Regions from separate parts of the Homo sapiens genome. Here region 2 is linked to region 1. Evidence: fine-mapped expression QTL. A gene starts in region 1. The other region holds a variant in brackets. All regions are shown on one strand. Distances are between the middles of the regions. Region 1 holds the start of CD4 (CD4 molecule). Region 2 holds the start of GPR162 (G protein-coupled receptor 162).

Region 1 (2,901 bases):
GGAGGGGCTGCACATCCTTCTGTAACTCTCCCGGCCTCATGAGACCCCTACCACCAATTCTTTTCGAATCCGTTTCTTAAATGACATATTTATCTAAAGATATGTATCTGCAACTTTTAGGGCAATTCATACGCAAAAGCTCAGTTTCAACACTTTCTGAGAATTTTAGCTTTCCTATTTCATGAATCATTTTAAAGCTAACTAGAGTAGAAGTGCCTTTAGACATTGTTCAAAAATCTTAAAAGAGCAAAGAAGCAGACAAAAATTTAAAAATACACACAGAAACACAAAAGGTAGTTAAAAGAGACTATTACATAGATCATGCGACTTATGAAATGCTGCAAGTATGATATTTGGTGTCAATTTTTGGAGATTGTCCCGTTAAGGAAAATTGGTTTTGCAAGAATTTTCTCTAGACTAGATTCCACTTCTTTTGCTCTTTTTCTTGTTTTTATGTTTTTCCTCATCATTTCTTTTTTATAGGTTTCCTCCCACCTTATATTTATTTATTCTTTCTAATTTTTTCCCTCCCCTTCTTCACTCTTTTTCTCCTCTTTTCCCCTCTTCCAGTCTTCTCCCCTCAACTGCCCACGACTAGTTGCCTTCCACGCCTTTCCCAGCCTGGGATAGTCTCCAGTCTTCACTCCCTCTCTGATCTTGCTATTTAGGTCACTACTCCTCTAAGGAGCACCCATTGCTCTGGACACTGAGCTGTGCACGCTGGGGCTGCAGAGAGGAGTCTAGCACAGTCTCTGACCTCTGGAAGCTCACAGTTCCAGTGGGAAATCGCTGCTCATGACCAGTTCCAAGAGAAATGCAAGAGAAGGTGGCCAGAGCTGTGGGCAGACAACTGGGCAGAGCACATTCCTGTGCATCTGCCCCACGTTCCCCTCCCTCTCAGCTCCGGGGAAGGAAGCCGAGTCTGACCACCTTACCTCTGGGCTTGCGTCTTTCTTGCCCGCTGCTTCTCAAACAGGCGTATCTGTGTGAGGACTTGGAGCTCTGCAACCAGGAGCCCAGTGGGGAGGGTGCTTTGTTCCTTCTGCAGAGTCGTGCTTAAATGAAGAGAGACAGGAAGCCCGATGGCAAGGCTCCTCCACACCCTAGGCCTGGGCCGGCCCCAAACGTCACCAGCTGGAGCTGGGTTCCCCACCCCCCAGGCTCTCAGGGAACATGTCAAAGTGAAAATGCCAAAGTCAAGGGAAAAAGTTAAGCAGAATCAGGCTTAAATCAGGAGTCAAACTGTCACTGCCACTGTTAAGCGGCAAGAAAAAGATGGCAAGAAAGATTCCATTAGTGGTAGCGCCATGTCTGACCAGGCTGTGGGGAAAGAAGTGGGAGGCAGTTGGGGGCATATGGGAACAGCAGTGGTAAGCCCACAAACAGCTCCTTGCTCTGGGGCCCTGAGGGCATGTGTCCAGTGGGTGCCCCAGGGGTATCTGTGGAGGCTTTATAGGTGGCCCAGTGTGGAAGAGAGGGCGTGGGCTGAGCAGAGAATATCTGAGACACCAGGAGTGACTGTTAACCAGGCTCTGTTCCTCTAGGCGTCTCTGGCCAGGCCTCAGGTGCTTTCCTCTAGCCCGAATCTACCATGAACTCTCTATGTGAGTATCCGTCTGCCCATTGGACATCTCCACTGGGAAGCTCACCGGACATAGCAAACTCAACACACATCCCCAACTATGCATACCACCTGCATACTACCACCCTCCAAACCTGCTTCTCCAGGCTTCTCACTCAGTGAGGGGCTCACCATCCACCAACTTGCCCAAGCAAAATAAATTGGGTGTAATCTTTGACACCCCCTTCACCCAACTTCTCCCACGTATTTATTTACCAGTTCCTGTGGATGTTACCTTCTAAATGGCTCCAAAATCTACCCAAGTCACTCTGCACTACCACTACTGCCACCATGCCAATCCAAGATGCCAATATCATCCCTTGCTCGGACAACAGCTCCTGCCTCCTCACTGGTCGCCATTCTCCATACCACAGCCCAAGTGATCATTTAAAGATGCACATGTGAGTGTGCGTTTTCCAGTCTGAAAAAAGTGGGGCTGGGAGTGGTGGCTCATGCCTATAATCCCAGCATTTTAGGAGGCCGAGGTGGGGGGATCGCTTGAGCCCAGGAAGTTGAGGCTGCAGTGAACCGTGATTGCACCACTGCACTCTAGCCTGAGTGACAGAGTGAGAACCTGTCTTGAAAAGAAGAAAAGAAAAGAAAAGAAAAGAAAACTCTAGTTCAGCTTGCGACTCCAACAATTAACACAAGTACCCCTATTTGACAGCATTGTACTTCATCTGTAGCATATAGTACTGTGTGCTACTTCTCATTTCATGACACACCGTACTCAAGGGTTGAGATTTAATAAAATTAGTATTTACTGCTTCATTAAAGGCATTCTATATATATATATATATATATTTTTTTTTTTTTTTTTTTTTGAGAGGGAGTCTCACTCTGTTGCCCAGGCTAGAGTGCAGTGGCGTGATCTTGGCTCACTGCAACCTCTGCCTCCCGGGTTCAAGCAATTCTCCTGCCTCAGCCTCCCAAGTAGCTGGGGCTACAGGCATGCGCCACAATGCCCAGCTAATTTTTGTATCTTTAGTAGAGATGGGGTTTCACCATGTTGCCCAGGATGGTCTTGATCTCTCTTTTTTTTTTTTTTTTTTTTGAGACAGAGTCTTGCTTTGTCATCCAGGCTGAAGTGCAGCAGCATGATTTCGGCTTACTACAACCTCCGCCTCCTGGATTCAAGCCATTCTCCTGCCTCAGCCTCCCGAGTAGCTGGGATTACAGGCACCCGCCAACATGCCTGGCTAATTTTTGTATTTTTGTAGAGACAGGGTTTCACTCGTTGGCCAGGCTGGTCTTGAACTCCTGACCTCAGGTGATCCTGA
Region 2 (2,901 bases), 33 kb before region 1:
GGGGGGTTCTGGTCCCCATGCTGGGACTTCCAGGTCTCTTTTGCCTCTGGTTCTTGACCAGTCAGGAATCTTCTGGATGCCCCAGGGATTTGGGGGTGGGGCTCAGCCCCCTGGACAGGCTGCAAGGGAAAGATGAGATGTGGGAGGGAGAGGGCAAAGGTAGGGCCTGGGCTGGTCTCCAATCAGCCTCCTGTGCCCCCTTTCTTGAAACTATAGGCATGACTGATTACTAAGGCCCTGAGGGTCATTCAGAACATTCCTTTGCCTTAACTCTGACAGCTAAACACCCCACACAGATGAGAGCCGCACTCTTCCAGACCTCTAGGGAAGAAGGTATTCCCACCTCCCTGTCTCCTTTAGCCCTTCCTCCTCCCGCTGGAACTCCCAGGTTCCTTCTTAGAACATCCCCTGCTCAGCACTACTCCACCCCTATCTTCAAGTCCCTAAATGTCTCTTCAGAACTACTGATGGGAGACACAAGACTGGTTTCCTCTTGAGGGTTCACAGTGAACTGGGATATGGCATCACAGCCTTCCTCCCCTACCTGCCGGTCTCCTGGATGCAGGGGTCTTGGTGCTTAGCCCCTACTTCCCCAAACCTGGGTGATCACCCTCCAGCTACCCATATCTGGGAAAATGGGAGAAAGGAGTCTGGGACCGAAGGGGGTGCTAGGGAACCTGAAGGCGGGGAAACCGCTGACATCAGAAGCATCCAGAAATGGAAAGAGGGGGAACTAGGGAGAAGGAGGAGAGTTTGAGCAGAAGAGAAAGAGGGGGCAAAGTGGTAGTATCTGAAAATAGCAGGAAAAGCTCAAACCCCCTGGAGAGGAGGCTTTGGAGGGAGGAGGGACTGGAGGAGGGAGGGAGGGAGGGAGCAGGGAATAGGAGGCTGAGAAGAAAAGCCAAATGTTCAATAAGGTGCTGACTCCCCGTGGGGAGACCTTGACTCTTCCTCCCTGGCCCAGAGCCTCAGTTTCCCTCTCATGGGAGGAAGGATGGTCCCAGTTTTAGTGCGTGATGCTGAGCTTCAGTGAGCCCTGGGAAGGGGGGTAAGGGAATCGGGTGAAACCCTGAACAGAGTGGGGCTGTAAGGAAGCACATAATGGCTTTAGGGTAAGTGGGGTAAAAATGGGGCACAGCAGTGAAAGGGTCTGTTTCCCATGGAAGCAGCTCAGACCCTTGCTTTCCCCAAGAGGTCCTGGTCCACCCCCACCCTTGGCTTCCCTCCGGAGCCCAGTACACCCTAGTTGCCATGGCAATGGCCAGCCAGAGGGAGGTGGAGGGACTTGGCCAAGAGCAGCCCCCAGTGTCCTCTCCTACAGCCCTGGACCCCTTCCCACCCACCTCCACCCAGGCCCAGCTGGTGGGCTCAGGATGAAAGAGATAGGGAGTCAGAGAGGGAAGGAGGCAGGAAAGATGTGAAGGACAGAGAGAGGGAGGTGAAGGACAGGGAGAGATCAGAGGAAGGTGGGAAGGGGGATCTGGGAGGTTCCCTGGCCGACGGGGTCCCTCGCCCTTTGGGGTGAAGGGGTAAGGTCAGGCGGCTCCTCCCTCCTGTCCCCCTCCAGGTTCTCCAGGGCAGAAACAGCAGGTGGCTGGGGAGGAGGGGCCGGCCTAGGGGAGAGGAGGCAGCTTGAGGGGGAAAGGGAGGCAACACAGGGGACGGGGCAGGCAGGGGTCGTCTTACCTCTCTCCGGCTGCGCCCAGCACTGCCATGGAGACCGCACTCCCGACGCGGCTCTCTCGGGCTCCC[G/CG]CTGCCTGCCGGCTCCAGCTCGCCCGCCCTCCTCCCTCCTTCCCTCTCTCCCTCCCTCCCTTCCCCCGGGCCTCCCTCCTCCCCCTCAGTCCCGGCCTCCCAGGCTCAGCCCACGGCTCACTCGGTCTCTGCCCCTCTCACTCTCCAGGACCCTCTCTCCCGGGGTCGTCCTGCCAGTGAGCCCAGGCCAGAGGGAAGGCAGGACAGCTTTGTGGGGGGCGGGGGGGGGCGGGAAACGAGTGCAGGGTGGGGAACTGGACGGTGGTGACTCGGGGAGGAGGGGCAAGGAAGGCGCTGAGAGGGAGGGCGGTGAGGAGGATGGCTGGGAACCGGCTTCATTGGTGAAATGGTTCATGTCCTGCCCCCACCCCTTCCCGTTTTCAACACGAACACAAGCTCCAAGAGGCAGCTGGTGTTGTTGGGGACTGAGGAGCTAGCTGTTCGGGGAGGAGGAAGCGTGTGTCACTGTGTGTATCTGTGTGAGGGCTGGGCCTTGGGTTTGGGAGTGAGGGGGCTTGTGGTGCACACTGGGGCTGCTTGTGGAGTTGGGGGTGGTTGTGCACAAGCTAAAAGGATGTGGGCGCATGCATGCACACAGACACACACACTCTGCCTCCTCCTCCTGGAACACAAACACATATGTTGGGGATACAATTTGCACACACATGTTACAGTTTCTCATAGTCCTTTTTCTCTGCCACACACATACACCAGGAGAGCTCACACAACCCTGAGTCTCTCCCCCACGGTATATCACACACATGTAATTACAGAGTCTCAGCCTCACACACACACAGGCCCACACAGAGCCCTGTGGGTTGTGGAGGTGGGTAGCCAGCCTCCACAGAATTTTTCCCTCTCCAGGGAAACTTCATCTCCTTCCTGGGGCACGCCCAGCAACCTCTCCTCTGGGTCCGACCCCAAAGACCAGAAGATTCCTGGTCCCCAGAGAAGGGGTCTCTCTCTCTCTCTCTCTCTCACACACACACACACACACACACACACACACACACACACACGAAGAGCATCTTTATAGTAAGTTTATTGTATTTTTATTTCAGCTCAGGGGAGCAGGGGTGGAGAGTGGGCACAAATGCAAAGTAAGCAAATGGGGAGCCCCAGCAGCAATAGGGGGGTCTTCCTGGAAGA

The links. PIP is the estimated chance that this variant, and not a neighbour inherited with it, causes the effect.
Region 2: its variant is fine-mapped to the expression of CD4 in cerebellum (GTEx, PIP above 0.99).

Annotation. Positions count from the first base shown.
Region 1 is chr12:6,787,697-6,790,597 of GRCh38, reverse strand. It overlaps CD4 (CD4 molecule), which reads right to left and starts at 1,070. Exons shown (of 10, transcript NM_000616.5): 1 at 936-1,070. RefSeq lists enhancers at 1,164-1,213, 1,029-1,586.
Region 2 is chr12:6,820,686-6,823,586 of GRCh38, reverse strand. GPR162 (G protein-coupled receptor 162) reads right to left here and starts at 1,766. Exons shown (of 5, transcript NM_019858.2): 1 at 1,687-1,766; 2 at 1-119. It overlaps CD4 (CD4 molecule), which reads right to left. Exons shown (of 10, transcript NM_000616.5): 10 at 2,788-2,901. RefSeq lists an enhancer at 1,783-2,755. The variant G/CG (reference allele first, on the strand shown) is at 1,753.